Regions from separate parts of the Homo sapiens genome. Here region 2 is linked to region 1. A link means that fine-mapping ties the variant in region 1 to the expression of a gene that starts in the linked region. Tissue or cell type: left ventricle. Region 1 holds a variant in brackets; the other region holds the start of a gene. All regions are shown on one strand. Distances are from middle to middle.

What was found. PIP is the estimated chance that this variant, and not a neighbour inherited with it, causes the effect.
Region 2: it holds the start of NME7, and the variant in region 1 is fine-mapped to the expression of NME7 in left ventricle (GTEx, PIP 0.91).

What each region holds. Positions count from the first base shown.
Region 1 is chr1:169,199,108-169,207,375 of GRCh38, forward strand. The region is part of intron 10 of NME7 (NME/NM23 family member 7); the gene reads right to left. Among named protein-coding and RNA genes, the nearest start is that of ATP1B1, 97 kb to the left of the region's middle. The variant C/CT (reference allele first, on the strand shown) is at 3,192.
Region 2 is chr1:169,363,502-169,371,501 of GRCh38, forward strand. It overlaps NME7 (NME/NM23 family member 7), which reads right to left and starts at 4,296. Exons shown (of 12, transcript NM_013330.5): 1 at 4,207-4,296. The coding sequence starts at 4,209. It overlaps BLZF1 (basic leucine zipper nuclear factor 1), which reads left to right and starts at 4,694. Exons shown (of 7, transcript NM_001320973.2): 1 at 4,694-4,841; 2 at 5,972-6,049. The coding sequence starts at 6,022. RefSeq lists enhancers at 4,133-5,332, 4,272-4,773, 4,436-4,515, 4,774-5,273.

The DNA of each region.
Region 1 (8,268 bases):
ATCACAAATAAGGCCACTGAACCTTGAAACCTTGGCCAGTATCATACTGTTTAAGAGTGCAGAGTATCATTAAATAGTGATAATTATAATAACCTCTATTACAAGAGTGACAATAATGTTAGCTAACACTTATTAAGTATTCACTATGTTCTAGAAAGTTTACATAAATTATCTCACTTATTCTTCACAATAATAATTCCATGAGGTAGATATCATTATTATTACAATTTTACAAATGAAGAAACTAAAGTTTTCAAAGGATACCACACTTGCCAAGAGCAAAGCTACTGAGTGGTGGAGGTAGGATTTGAACTTAGATAGATAACAGAACCCAGGGTCTTTTTTATTATTATTATTATTATTATTATTATTATTATTATTATTATTTTTAAATTGAGATGGAGCCTCACTATGTTGCCCAAGCTGGTCTCAAACTCCTGGGCTCAAGTGATCCTCCCGCCTCAGCCTCCCAAGTAGCTGAGTCTAAAGTGTATTTCACCATGCCCAACAGCACCCAGGGTCTTAACCACTTTGCTATACTTGTTGGTTCCTATTGTCTACAAAAATAAAAATCATGTACCACATTTCCCAGAGCTGCAACTTTCAAAACTGCACATTATAACTCTAAGCCATATAAAGGTAAAAGGAAAAGGTATAATTCACCAAAAGTACTAAAAGTTTACTCAGCCAAAATTCAGAATTTTAGAGTTGGAAGGAGAAGCATAAATCATTTAGTTTGATGACAACTTAGTGCAAATGATAAAACTGAAAGACTTTGGCCTAACTCTTCAGGTTTTAGGAAATAAAGGAAATTCAATGATGATGAGTTTTCCACAGGTATGACTGATATAGAACTTATTAATTCATTATTAATTCATTCACCTATTCATTAGTTATTTTTCATCTCAGTCAACAAATATATACTGAAAGTCAACTACACACCAAGCACCCTGCTAGGTTACAAACTCCAGAAAGTAAAAAATGAGTATGACGGTCCCATTCTTCAAGGGGCTTATGGTCTGGACTGGTGGGGGTGGGGGAAAAGGTGTAAAATAAGAATTCTTATTTTATATATCACTATATAACGTGATAAGCAATACTCAATAAACATGGCAGGGAGTTATTCTGTTGGAAACATCCGGGAGGGCTTTACCAAGAATATCATTAAATTAAGAGATAAGCAATTATTTCCAAGAAGATATCTTCCCTCCAGGAAGAGGGTAGAGGAATTTAGCCTTGAGTGGTTGGAAATTCAAGTCATTTAGAATTGCTTGGAGCATAGCCAGTGAGGGTAAGAGACTGTGTTAAGCACATCTTTTTATTCTGATGTTTTAACATCTGGGGCCTTATTGACCCTGAGGAGACTGTCCCTCCCAAGGCCAGCCATCTTCTAGAGATAATAAAGGGCTCCCCTGTGAGATTGCCTTTCATATGCAAACCAACCAGGTCAGACCCCATCCACTCCAACCTCCTCTATCAGGCTCTTACAATCTGGATCAATATTCCCCTGCCCTAATTTCCTCAGGGACAGGGTCAGACAACTTAGAACAGCCCTGTACACCCTACAGTCCACTGAAATTATTCAAACTAGCCAATCCTGAACTTGTTAGCCCTTCCTCACCCATTCCTTCCCAAGGAAATCACAATAGAAGCTCTTGCCCATATTTCCCCCTATTCTTCTGTTTCCTGACCCACCCTCATGTTTCCCTGTGTGGCCCTGCATGTGCAGTGTGCACTGTCCTCTTGGGGATTGTAGCTATCTTTTCAATGGCAATCATCTGATGCATTGGCCTCACCATCCCTGAATGATAATAAAACTGACATTATAAACAAAGATTCAAGCCTGGGTGCCATGGCTCACATCTGTAATCCCAGCACTTTGGAAGGCTGAGACAGGAGGATCCCTTGAACTCAGGAGTTTGAGACCAGCCTGGGCAACATAGAGAGACCCTATCGCTACAAAAATTTAAAACATGGGCCAGGTGTGGCGGCACGCACTTGTAGTCCCAGCTACTTGGCAGGCTGAGGCAGGAGGATCACTTGAGTCTAGGAGGTAGAGGCTGTAGCAAGCTATGATAATATCACTGCACTCCAGCCTGGGTGACAGAGCGAGACTGTCTCAATAAATAAATAAATAAATAAAACAAAGATTCAGTAAATTCTGCTACATAGACAGAAAGGGGCAAGACCATGTAAAGTGTTGTCTGAGGAGTTTTAACTACTCAGGAGACATTGGGAGCCACAGAACAGTGTTAAGCAGGGGCATAATATGACTAGATTTACATTTTAAAAAGATTACTCAGGCAGCAGTGTGGTTACAGAATTGCAGTGAAGTAATTCTGAAGGTATGGAGACTAATTAGGAGGTTATGGTATAAAACAGTCGGGAAGTGATGAAAATCTCAATTAAGGTAGGGGAACTGGAAATGGACAGAAAGGAATATTTACGAGATGGTGAGAAGGTATCTTGAAGGACTTGATTGACTATAATGGGTTGGGGAAAGGCAAAAGCAAAGACACACTTCAAGGTTTCTGGCTTAGCTGACTGTGGCTGGTAATGAATTTATGGAGATAAGAAAAGAAGCACAGAAGCAAGTTTGCAAGGAAGGAGAATGGGATCTGCTTGCCTGTAGGATTGTTCTTGTAGAGATACTAATAGCCAGTTAGAAACATGGATCTGGTGCTCAGGAGGTGTTCTTAGACTGGAAACAAGATTTGAGAGTTACCAGCCTACTGGTGGTGGTTAAGGTCATAAAAGTGGATAGAATTATCAAAGGAAGACATGCAGAAAAATATCAAAGTTCAGGTTGAAAACAGAATTCCAAGAAACACCACAACTTAAAAGGCAGGTAGGGAAATGGTGTTTGCAAAAGAAAATGGATGTGGTAAGATAATCTGGGGAGTCTGGCAGCAGCAGCAGCAACAATGGCATAATCATCACCATCATCACCAGATGGCTAATATTTCTTCAGCATTACTATGTTTCCCACATTATGTCATGTGTTTTACATGTATAGTTCATTTGCTGCACATAGTAACTGATAGTTTGGATATTTGTCCCTGCCCAAATCTCATATTGAATTGTAATCTCCAGTGCTGGAGGTGAGGTCTGGTAGGAGGTGTTTGAATCATGGGGGCAGATCCCTCATGAATGGCTTGGGCCATCCCTTTGGTGATAAGTGAGCTCTCACT[C/CT]TGAGTTCAAAGGCGATCTGGTGGTTTAACAGTGTATGGCACCCCCCTCCCCACCACCAACTCCTTTGCTTGCTCCTGCTTTTGCCATGTGACATGCCTGCTCTTGCTTTGCCTTTTGACATAACAGTAAGCTTCCTGATGCCTCCCTATAAAACCATGAGCCAATTAAATCTCTTATTTATAAATTACCCAGTCTCACGTATTTCTTTATAGTAATGTAAGAACAGCCTAACACAGTAACTCAGTGAGGTTTAAGAGATGATGACATAGGCCTACAGAAGTTAAGTAAGGCCTATAAAATTGTTCTCCTTTGCAATCTCTCTAAAGCATGGCTTCTTAAACTGCTATAATGTGTCCATTGAAGAATGATGAGGTTAATAACTTTGAAAAGGAGAGCTTATTTCTCATTAAGGGTTGTAGTCTGAAGGGTGGCCATACCAACAGGCTAGGAAGCATAATCTCTGGCCAGAAGCCAGAAACATGCAATTGGAGGGAGGGGTAAAGGGAACAGAAATTTATGCTGAGCAGTTTGGCTAAGTATAAATATTCAATGGGTTATAGGAGGAGCTATGAATATTCATGAAGTAATGGCATGGGTATGCACAGTAGGCCAATGTGTATGAAACATGTGTCCCATTGAGAGAAGAGAAAGGAAGAAGCTGGTCAGGCAGGCGGGCAGGGAGGGTGGGTCCTCAGTTGAATCCTTTCAAACAAAAGAACAGCCTGCAGGCACAGGTAAGGGAACTGCACAGGATGGCTTGCCTAAGACATGCCCACAGCCCCACTGATAAGAAAGGCTACACAAGTGACTTGCCCAGTCAGGCTTGCAATGGAAAATTCCATCCCCTGACACATGTGCAGTAAGGGGAACAAAGAAATATGGAGTAAGTCAAGCTAAAGCCTGTATGCACATTAGGAGGATGAGCTGGAGCTACCAGAAATTCATGCCTTATGCAAATGAGACACCCAGCCCTCAATGTTTTCTTATAAAAGTCTTTGTATTCAACTGTACAAATGGTAACCCTCTTCTGGGCCCTCTCTCCCTGTCAGAGAGCTTTCTTCTTGTGCTTATTAAACTTTCACTCCAACCTCACTCTTTGTGTCCACGCTCCTTAATTCTCTTGATTGTGAGACAAAGAATTCTGGGTGATACCTCACAATGAGAGACTGCTACACTGTGGTGCACTGGTGAGACTGCAACACCATGTTCACTCTAGGGTGAAGATTTAACATTTGAATGTATTACAATTAGGCCTTATAAATCAAAAGGTAAAGCAGAGGACATAAAAGCCCTCTGTGCTCAGTCTCCGTAGAATGGCCAGAACCATTCTGTGGTTGGTGGTCTCTAATCAGGAAGGAATGCTGGTGGGTTGCCCTGTCAAAACTACAGAAGGGAGGGCAGCAATGGTTTATATGGTTGATATCAGCAGTGGAGCAAGTTTTTCAAAATGGCTAGTTTCTCTTTAACCCTTAGGGAAGGCTAATGATGGTTAGCAAAGGAGTAGGTATAATGAGATGTGTCTGATCCCGCATCCCCTCATGGCTGGGAACTCGTTTATTTTCGTGTTTTGTTTTTGAGACAGGGTCTTGCTCTGTCAACCAGGCTGGAGTGCAGTAGTTTGATCAAAGCTCAGTGCAGCCTTGACCTCCTGGACTCAAGTGATCTTCCTTCCTCAGTCTCCCAAGTAGCTGGGACTACAGGTATGCACCACCATGCCTGGTTAATTTTTCAGTTTTTGAAAAGACAAGATCTCACAATGTTGCCCAGTTTTGTCTTGAACTCCTGGCTTCAAGCAGTCCTCCCACCTTAGCATCCCAAAGTGCTGGGATTGCAGGAGTGAGTCACCACACCAGGCCAGGGAATTTAGCTTTTAAGGTTTCTCTGGGGTCCCCTTGTCCAAGTGAGGGATCTGTTCAGTCAGTAGGGAGCTTGGGATTTTATTTTTATTTCTCAAATGCCTCAGTACTGGCTGCCTCTCCTCCTAAACTTTCACTCAATCCATACTAGATATTGTCACATAACTCTTACTTTGATCACATGACAGTGCTACTTTGTCAGTAACCTTCAATGGTTTTTCATGTTTATTAAGTAACAAAATTCCCAGCCTTGGACTCATTATGATGCTAATATCTCTCTAGCTTTATTGTCTACTATTATACTATATCCAATGCTTCAAACTAAATTACTCAGCCTTGCAATCTCAATGCCTATGTGACATAATCTCTCATTTTAAAAGTACAGATTCCCATTTCAGATTATAGAAATTCTAAGTATTCCACAGGGTTCACCTTCTTTCAGATGTCGCACTCTCTCGGAAACCTTACGCACTTACTCCAGAGATGTAAGCACTTTCCTTGAAAATCTTATTCACAACCTGTATCTCTCTTAAAGCATTTATCTTACTGTCAGATTTATTTTGCCATTGTCTGTAAACTTATCTTTTCTTACAACAGTTTGCAAGCAAAATCTAGTAATGCCTTGACTACCACTACATTTCAATAAATAATTATTGACTCAATTTTATTCAATTTTGAACTCTTATCAAAGCTCTCAAATTTGCTATCTGTGTTCTTTGGGCAAGCTTAGTATCTTTACAGATGGTGTAATTCCATTGGAAGTTTCTTTTCTTTCTTGAAGGTCATAAAACAAGGATGGCCCAACATCTCATACTGAAAACAGTTTTCCATCTAATTTTTTGATCAACTATAAGATTATTCTATAAGACCAAAGCAGGAAGCCTATAAATATATATTTACTATTGTCACACTAATAATTAGTCTAGCAAAATAGTATGCTTATGTTATTGTTCTTTAGGATAAACTGACAATGTAATGTTGCAGTTTACTTAAAAAACAATACTTACTATTATAACCACACTTTTAGTTTTTTCATTTACTAATTCACTACTTTCTATAATCAGAGTCAGTGTCAATTGTTTTCCCATGATCTTATGTAATTTGAGCTTTAGCACCATCATCACATATATGTATGAAAAGAATAAGGTTCCAGATCTAAAGGCAACATCTGGTGCTTCCTTTCCTCAATTACTCTCCTAAAATCAAGACATAGGAACAAGGTTGCCCAAAACTCATTCAAGTCTTCCCATCTTGCCCATTATGTGTCAAATAGTTGTGTGGTACCCTCACAGCATGTATCCTAGGCTCTGAGAAAAGTAAGAAAAATCCATATTTATGGAATATTCTAAGAAGTTTGCCCATATTAGCTGATATAATCCTCACAACCGGCTTATTCTTTTTCCGTTTTATTGGTGAAGAAACAGATTATATTTTACAGATGAAGAATCTCAGGCGGCCTGGCTCTAGAGCCCACTGCAAAGCACCACATGTCAAGTACTGGCATTCATTATTCATTCTTCCTGCTTCTGCTCCGGCCCCACTTTGTCTATTCACCACATGGAAGCCAGCATTATTGTGTTAAAACATGTTAGGTTATGTTGGTCCTCTGCTCAAACTCTGCAATGGTCCCCTTCTTACTCAGAGTAAAAGCTAAAGTATTTTCAGCAGCTTTCCACGCTCTATGTGATCTTCTTTCCCATCCTGTATCTCTTTGACCTCACCTCACACATTCACTCCACTCTGGCCACACTGTCCTCCTGACTTCTTCCAATATACTAAGCATACTCCAGCTTTGGCACTTGCTGTTCCTCCAGCCTGGATTGCTAGGTGACTGTCACCCTCATCTCCTTCAAGTCTGTATCCAATGTTAACTTTTAAATGCAGCCTTCTCTGTCCATTCTACTTAAAAACTATAAATCCCTCCCTTTTCTGGAAAACCCTATTTCCCTCCCCTGCTTTATTTTCCCCTACACACTTACCATCATATTATATATTTTACTTATTTATTCCGCTCCTGATCTGTTTCCCCCCAACTAGAACGTCCTCTGTGAAGATAGATTTTATTGTTTGTTCTTTTGCCACTGTATTTCTACTGTATCTAGAATAGTACTTAGTATGTAGTAAGTCCCCAGAAAATATTTGATGAATTAACTAATTAATTAATTCAAATATCTATATGGAAGTTGGAGCTGATGTTGAGAGACTGAAAAAGAATGGATGGCTACAAGTCTTACAAGGAGGAATACCTCAGAGGCCTGGAACACGGAGGGTAGGGAGGATTAATACTAGGACAAGGAATAAAAAGGAAGAAGCTGTCTTGGGTTAATGCTTGGTCTTCAACTCCAGGGATTCTTATTTGACCTTTGTGTATCTTCCTTTAGGACTAGGGTTCATAATTTTGTCTTATGCAAAGACAAAGTTAAGAACCTCTTTTGGCAGCCTGATGGAGCCTATGAACCCTTCTCAAAGCAATGTTTTTAAATGCATAAAATACATAGAATTGCAGGAAATTAATTACTCTAAAATAAAATTATCAGAATATTTTATATTTTGTGATATAATGTACATATTTATTAAAATGTAGCAGCTGATTTAATAACTCTTATAATTTTAAAATAGCAATGACTGTAAATGATGTTTTAAGATATGTACAATTGTAATGCAATGTGAAAATGTTTGCAATTTCTGGTGGTTGCTAAGTTAACTACTATATTAACACATAGCTATAACAGTGATTAGTTGTTTATATTTATGGAATTCTAATATTCAGTCAGATATTAGTGAAAATAAACACGATTCTTTTTTTCTCATCCAAGTTCACAGACCCCTTGTCTTAGTCCGTTTGCATTGCTATAAAGAAACATCTGAGGATAGGTAATTTATAAGGAAAAGAGGTTTATTTGGCTCATGGTTCTGCAGGCTATACCAGAAGCATGGTACCAGCATCTGCTTCTGATGAGGGCCTCAGGCTGTTTCTACTCATGGTGGAAGGTGAAGGGGAAGTGGCATGCAGAGATCACAGGGTAAGGGTGGAAGCAAGAGGAAGAAGGGAACGATGCCAGGCTCTTTTTAACAAACAGTTCTCAAGGAAACTAACACAGTGAGAACTCAGTCATTACCCTGAGGATGCCACCAAGCCATTCATGAGGGATCTGCCCCCAGGACCCAAATGCCTCCCACTAGGCCCTACCTCCAATGCTGAGAATCACATTTCAATATG
Region 2 (8,000 bases), 160 kb after region 1:
GTCATCAGGTACAGTTTGAGAAACACTGCTGTACGTATACGTGTGGTCTGGCCTCTGCCTACCTCCCTAACCACATTTCATGGTATTTTGCACCATATTTTCCCTACTGCAGCCACCCCTGCACCATCCCACCACCCAGTTTCTATTATTTTATTACATTGAACCATAAGTTCCTAAAATATACCAATCTCTTTTCTGCCTCAGGGTATTTGATCTTGTTGTTAGCGTGGCCTGGACTCCTCCAGATCACTGCACTTTGTATTATATTATGCAGGTCTCAATATAAAAGTTCTTTCCACAGAGAGGCCTTCATTGACCACCTAATTTGAAAGAGCCCCAGCCTGCAATCCCGGCAGGAGGAGTGGGAACAGGAGTTCATTCATTGCCCTTAGCATTCCTGGGAAGTTTGATAACATAATGTAAGACAGGCAAAAACCAAAAACAGTATTGAGCAAATGTCACTTTCTACCTCCCTATGCCATTGCACAGGTCATAGAATTCTAACTATTGAAATTCTATTCCATTTTCTTCATGACAACTTTTCTGACTCTGACTGAGAAGCAGGGACTCAATTGTACAATTTGCCCCCTATTACTTTGTATTCTCTCAGACCACTTAGCGCATTCTTTCTTATTTTGTATTCATTCCGCAAACATTTGAGTGCCTAATATGATCTAGGCAATACTGTGAACAACATAAGCATGAATTCCTCCAACAGTTCACATTTTAGTAAGAGTGACAGATCTATAAACAAATAATTTCAACCGAATGAGGCAAGTACAATAGGAGAGATGTATACTACATAAAATGGTGACAAAAAGAATGAACAATCAACCTCTTTTTCTTTTTTTCTTGATTTCACAGTGTGGAGGGGAAAGCTCTGAATATCTGCATAGATTTTAAATTTGTATTTATTTATACTTTTTTAGAGACAAGGTCTCGCTATGTTGCTCAGGCTGGCCTTGAACTCTTGGCCTCAAGCAATCCTCTGACCTCAGCCTCTTCAATAGCTGGGACTACACACATATGCCACCGCACCTGACTCGACTCAACCCTCTTTGAGTAGGGAAGGAAGGCATCACAGAAAAGACACCTACACTGGGTCTGGAAGTGAATCCACCTTTGCAAAAATTATAACAGTGAGAGAAATCTAACCTAACTGACTCCATATTGCTTCTAACCTCACAAAGCTAACTGCCCTTGCTCATACCTGGGCATAGGCAAGCTAACTATGGGAGAAATTTATAGTTTAACTTTGAAGCAAGGATGGTAATAGTCCCTTCCAAAACTGACCCCCTCTAGGGACTAAAACAGCCTTGTAAGACTAATAGAAGGCCGCAAGGTTAGGACTATGGGAGGGACCTAAAATCTGCTAAAATATAGGCATAGGTAAGCAATAACCAGCTACTGTTCCTTGCTTTTCTATAATTTCTTACTATTCAGAAGTCATGTAGCCAGAGGTCACAAGATTTGTAACTTCACCAATTGCTCCTTTAGATAACATCACTATTGTAAAACCTAAGATTGGTCTTGAGATATTTTCCAGGCTTCTGCATTCTGGCAAACCTCCTGATGCCACCCAGATACATGCCTCATACCAAGAAACTGACTCTACTAGTCCTATGACTCTCACCTAGACAACTGACTCAGCACAGGAAGACAGTTTGGAAACACCTATAAATTCATCCCCAACCAATCAGCAGCGCCCATTCCCTACCAACCTGCCCACAAAATTATCCTTGAAAACCACAACTTCCAAGCTGTCAGGGAGGCGGATTTTAGAAATATTTCCCATCCTTCCACTCAACTGCCTTGCCTCCATTAAACTCTTTCTCTGCTGCAACTCCTGCATTCTCAATGTTTGGCCTTTCTGGGAAGTGGGCAAGAAGAACACGTTGGCCTGTAATAGGAGAATAAATAAGTTTGGCAAGCAACAAGAGGGTGCAAGTATTCTGTGTAGAAGGAATTGCAAGTGCAAAGTAGAAAGAGGAGGCATACTACCAGTTTGAAGTTGCTTGGTATGTTCAATGAAAAGCAAGTAGCTAAAAGGCAAGAGAATTTTTTTTTTTTAAGTATGGAAAGGGAAAGGCAAAAGCTAGACAGAAAAGTGCTTGTTCATGGAGGAACTTGTGTGCCATTCTAGACATTTTACTGTAGGAAATAGGGAATCTAGAGTTTTAAGGAGGTGAGTAAATCAACAGGTTGGGTTTTTAAAAATTCCTTCTTGTGGCAGAGAAAATAATGGATTGGAGAATTTCCAGACCAGACTGTAAAAGTCACTATTAAAATAATCACGAAATGAGGAGATGACAAACTAAAATTTGATCTAGTGAACAACTGAATATGGGAGAAATAGAAGAGGGAGGAATGTAGGATAACTCTGATTTCTAGTTTAGGTTATAATATAGTAGTAGCATTATTTAACTTGGTGAAAATAGGAGAAACCAGGAGGAAAGATAGCAAGTTCAGTTTTGGTCATATTAAGTTTGAAGGACATTTGAGACAGATGTGTCCGGGAAGCAACTGAGTTAGGCATTAGTAGATCTGAGAGGAAAATTGAAATTTAGAAGCAAAATCAAAGGTGTTAGTAGAATCCATGTGAGTGGACAAAATCACCCAAGGAAAATGTCTAGACTAAGAAATGAAAGTAATCAAGGAGTTAATTCCAAAGAATGACATTCAAAAACCAGGCACAGCCAGTAAAAGGAATTAATGACTATGAACCTCAGTTGTCACAAAGAGACTAAGTAATGTAAATTTTGAGAAGTAATTACTGTATTTGGTATTTAAAAGGCCATTAGAAACTTAAGCAAGAACAACTTTCTTGAAGCCATTAAAGAAGCCAGACAGAAGACTTTTGTCTGTTTGATATAAGTAAAAATAATATCCTTTCAAGAAGTTTACTGATAGATAGGAGGACTAGGAAATAACTGGATAAACACAGGATGGAGGACATGGTTTTGCTTTATTTAATTTTCATAAGATGTGTGACTTGAGCACTGAAGAGAAGAAACTGGAGAGGAAAAGGCTGAACGCACAGGAAAGAAAAAAACAACTGGAAGCGAAATGTAACAGATGGAAGCAAATGAGATCAAGAGCAAAGATGGATGGATTATCCTTTAATATCCCTTTCTCTACACTAGAAATACAAGACTAAAGGCTCGGCAAAAATATAGAGCAATGTGTAGGTTGGGGGCATGAGGTTGAAGAAATGGCCTGTTATACTCCATCATGTTTAGAAAGGAGAAATGAAGAGGGCAAAAGACAGGGTTTGTAAAGGGAAGGTTTGAAAATGTCTTCACAGAGAATGGGTCAGGGGAAAACTGGGGTAACCAAAAGGATTGCTGAGTAGTATGAAGAAACAAGGGGTGGTGGGTGAGGGCTCTGTTTCTAAATTCATAGCTATAACTATCTAAAGATCTTTCTATCCTCCAGTCCGTTATCCATAAGTGCTTAAAAGATATGGTAGTTAAGTGAATTAACTAGAACCCTCTCAAACATAGGGGTGAATTAAAATAACCTATAGGCTTATTTAAAATGCAAATACCGAGCTCCATTCCTTTCATTCAGAATTTCCAGGGGTGAAGCCCAAACAGTGAATTCCAGAAGCTCTCCAAGCAATCCCAGGAGAAATTTCTGTTTAAAAAAAAAAGAAGAAGAAAGAAAAGAAAAGAGAAAAGAAAAGCAAGCACAGACCTAGAAGGTAACCAACTGGATAGAAGAGCGCTGATCCAACATACACCTGTTAATGGCCCTCGTGGGGGCGTGGGGCAGTGCTCTGCCACTCAGAAAAGCAAAAAGACTCCAAGATCTAGGGAGATTCAGATCAGTGTTGAGACAGTCACATACACACCACCCCATACTCTTAATAAAGCGCGTTAATGTGAATCTGTGAACATGAAAAATGCCATGATGAACAATGCAAACACATAATGTTTGTTCAAAACAGGTTATTAGACTCGATGCCTTACCCTAAATTTTCTGTTTCATTACTCTAGAGACTTAGTAACATTAGTGGAATTCAGGGTGCTGTAAGAAATACGGAGAGCGAGGAGACTGCAGGAACAGCCCGTGGGAAGGGGGAAAGAGATAACGGGGAGAAGGTCGGGAGGACCGGACAACTTTAAGTGCCCATCCGCCCGAAGACTTGGAAAGCTAAGTAAGTAGGACCCCAGAGCCGTTCTTCTGGCATCCCCTGGCACTCACCATTGTCTCAGGATCTCAGCACTAGAAAATAGGTATCGTTGAGACAGGAAGACACCACCACCACCACCATCATACGGTTACTCAGGCAACAAAGCCCCGCCCACTGTCGCACGAGGCGTGGGACGCCACCGCCCCACCTCTTCGTCCTTAGTGGCTGGGAGTAATCTCAGCTGCGTTCATCCAATCGACAGACCCGCCCCTCCACGCTGTCGCCTGGGGCTACGAGACGCCATTATTCTGTTTCCGGCAGTTTTACTTCCGTTTGTTTAACAGCTGGCCCGGAAGTTTAAGTGAATATGCGGCTTGGGCTCCAAAAGTTGCTGTACGGTATTTTATTTTAAAGTAGAAATCTGTCCGCTTTTCACTTACGGAGGCCTTACAGTGTGTGTTCTGTGTTACTTGAGTTTATACGCACTGCAGAATTTGTTTACCCTGCTCTTTTGGAAACGTATTCCGGAAGCGAAACCCTGAGTAATCGGAAGTGGTTAGGAGTGAGAGAGCTGCTGGATATGCGGAGGGACTGGGCGGGTCGGCTTCCGAATGGAAGAGGTCTGTGAGAAGTTAACCTGGTGATACCGATCCGAAGAGCCTATCAAGTGAAGCCCCCTGAAATACGGAGAATAAGAATCTTAGAGGTAAATCCGAGGACAAGCAGGTATAACTAAGGATGTTGGAAAGGGACGGAGGTCTGGCTGGAGCTCGGTGGCCAGTAGCTTTGGATTTAGGGAAAGATTGTTCCGGGAAGACTTTTTCAGACAGGGATGAAACTTAGGTTTCGACTTCCCCGGACAGCAAAGTTGACAGGCTTGTCGCTTCCCGGCCTATCGCTTTCATACCTGCTCACTCCCCCTACTTACTTCTTCACCCCCTCCGCTTCATTTGGCATTTGCCAGCAGGCACTCGCTGTGCCTGTACGTTTCGCAGAGCAGCTATCAAGGGCAGTTTCAGGGATCGTTACTCTTACGAAGGGTTTTTTGGATACCTCTTTTCGGAGCAGTAGAGTGTAAGTGTAGAAAAGTTTGTGACTGTTAAGAAAGTTAGTCGTCGGGTTCACTAATTGAACTGAGTTGTATCTAGTACTGAGAACGATCTTTTTTTGTAGTGAAACCAGTTGTCATCTAGTGTACAGTTTGTCATATTTATATCATTGCAGTAGCATCACCTTCTTATATGTTCTCTGGTAAATCTGAGTCTGTACTGTAAGACAATGTATACATTTCTGAAAGCATGGGCTCGATATGTTTCTCTTTTTACTTTTGGAGCTACACTATTTTAATTTTAACTTTTTATTACCAAAAAAGTATAAATTATGTTATCTTGAGTAATATTTTTTGTCGTTTGTTAAACATCTAAACAGAAGCTCCTTTTTGATATGTGTGTGTGTGTATACAAATTGTGTCGGTATGTCTCCTAAGAAAGTAATTACTTTAAAATTCCTCTTGTCATATGGATGACAAAACCACCACAGTAACTTCATTCCCTTTGCTTGGCTAAAATTCAGGACATACTTCTGACAATTTAGAGTGTATTGGTGAGGATGGTGAAACGGAGTATTTAGAAGTAAACCACCCCTAATTTTTTTTTTTGAGACTTTTAGTAGACATAACAATGCCTTCTGTGAGAATGGGATATAAGGGACATTTCTCTTTCTAAATGCATGCGTACTAAATACAGAAGCAATTAAAATATCATAACTTTTAAATTGGAGGTACTCTATGTGTTTATATGATATTTTTAAAATTATTTCATATGCATACATTTCTAGGTTGTTCAGCAGAAGTCTTGGAGTGCATTTTCAGTGGTTAAGGTGAAAAAATGACTACTAAAAATTTAGAAACCAAAGGTAAGTGGCTTTTTTATAATTGTTTTTAAAACATGACATTTATGACGATGTGAAGGAACGTTTGAGCCAGATAACTAGATCTCATGGACCCCCTTGGGAATCATTTGTTATTTCAGATCCCTTTATGTTTATTTTTTAGTGCAGTGTTTATATTTCAGTACTTTAGATGTACAAGTGAAATTTAACATCATTAGTTAGAATTTATTAGGTGACTACTCTTAAACATTTAATGTTAATGCAAAGTTTTTAACAGCTATATTCCCTATACACTAGAAGATTACGATTTAAATAAGAATACACATTTTAAAGATTTAAGTAGATAGACAAAGCAACTAGGGTGTATCAAAGATCTCTTTCATGTTGTATTAGTTTGCTGGGGTTGCTGTAACAAAGTACCACAAACTGCATGGCTTGAACAACAAAATGTATTCTCTCAGTTCTGGAGGCTAGAAGTCCAAGATGAAAATGTCAACAAGGCTGTGCTCCTTCGGAAGGCATTAGAGACACTCTCCTAGCTTCCAGTGGCTTGCTGGCAGTCTTTGGTGCTCCTTGTCTTGTAGACGTACCACCCTTATCTCCGCCTTCATATTCACATGGCATTCTCCCTATGTGCATGTTTCTGTGTCTAAATTTACCCTTTTTATAAAGACAGCAGTCATATTGAAAAAAGGAACCCAGTCTACTCCTGTATGATTTCATCTTAACTAATTACATCTGCAGTGATCCTGTTTCCAAATGAAGTCTCATTCTGAGGTAGTGGGGGGTTAGTACTTCAACAAATAAAGATTTGGGGGACACAATTCAACCCCTAAATTGCTAAATACAGTAGTCACTTTTTAGTCCTAGCTGATTTGTCCTCTCTAATATTTAATACTGTTGACCATTCCCTGCCTTTTGAGATACGTTCTTTTGATGACTTCCATGACATCACTTTTATTTTCAGTCTACTCTGTAGCCTTTCACTGTCCAATGCGGTAATTACATGTGGCTATTTGAATTTAAATTAATATTTTTTAAAAATTAAAAATTCAGTTTCTCAATGACGCTTGCCAAACTTCAAGTGGTCGGTAGGCAAATATGGCGAGTAGCTATTTCAATCATTGAAGAAAATTCTGTTGGACAGCCCTGCTGTAGCTGTATCTTCTCTCTTTCTTTTTCAGCCTCTTCTCCTTCTTATTTATCTTTTAAATATCAACACTTTCCACCACTGTTTCTTTTCTACTCTCATGACTTCAGTAATTATCTATATAAATGACTTCCAAATCTATCTATATCCCTAATCTCCTTCTTTATGATTCATACCCTTATAGACTACTGCCTACTGGCCATCTTCACATAGCTGTAGGCAACAATTTTAACATGTCCCATAGTGAACTTCTCCTGACCCAGCTTATTCTTTGGATGGGTTGAGTTCTGCATGCTAGAACCATCAGTTAAAGATGGAAAACTGTTTTCTAGATGCCAATTTTTCAGCAAACTGACCTCCAGCCACAAACCCTCTCTAAAAGCAGGTTGAAATAAGTTTAAGAAACAAGGAAGAAAGATCATGCTAATAAATATTTAATTGAATTTAATTCAGCTTTGCAACAGCATTTCATAAGTCACCAGAAGGCTTTTATACCATTAGATAAGCAAGTCAGAGACTGTAATGAAAGTAATAAACTGGGGATTAATGGGAAATAAGAGCAGTTAAATAATTAATGTGAAAGCAACCAACATGGTGCTTGTCAAAAAGCAAAAACTAAATACAATATTATGATTAGTCATTAGAAGTACTGGCAAGTTCTCTGTGAAATTAAATTACTTTTTAATATTTATTATTACTTGTTTTTAATGAGGATTAGAGTTATAAGGCACTTTAACAAACATTATTTTGTGTGATCTTAATTATCCAGTAAGGAAAATAATTCTATTAGCCATATTTCTATTTAATCTGTCATCTGATGTTAGT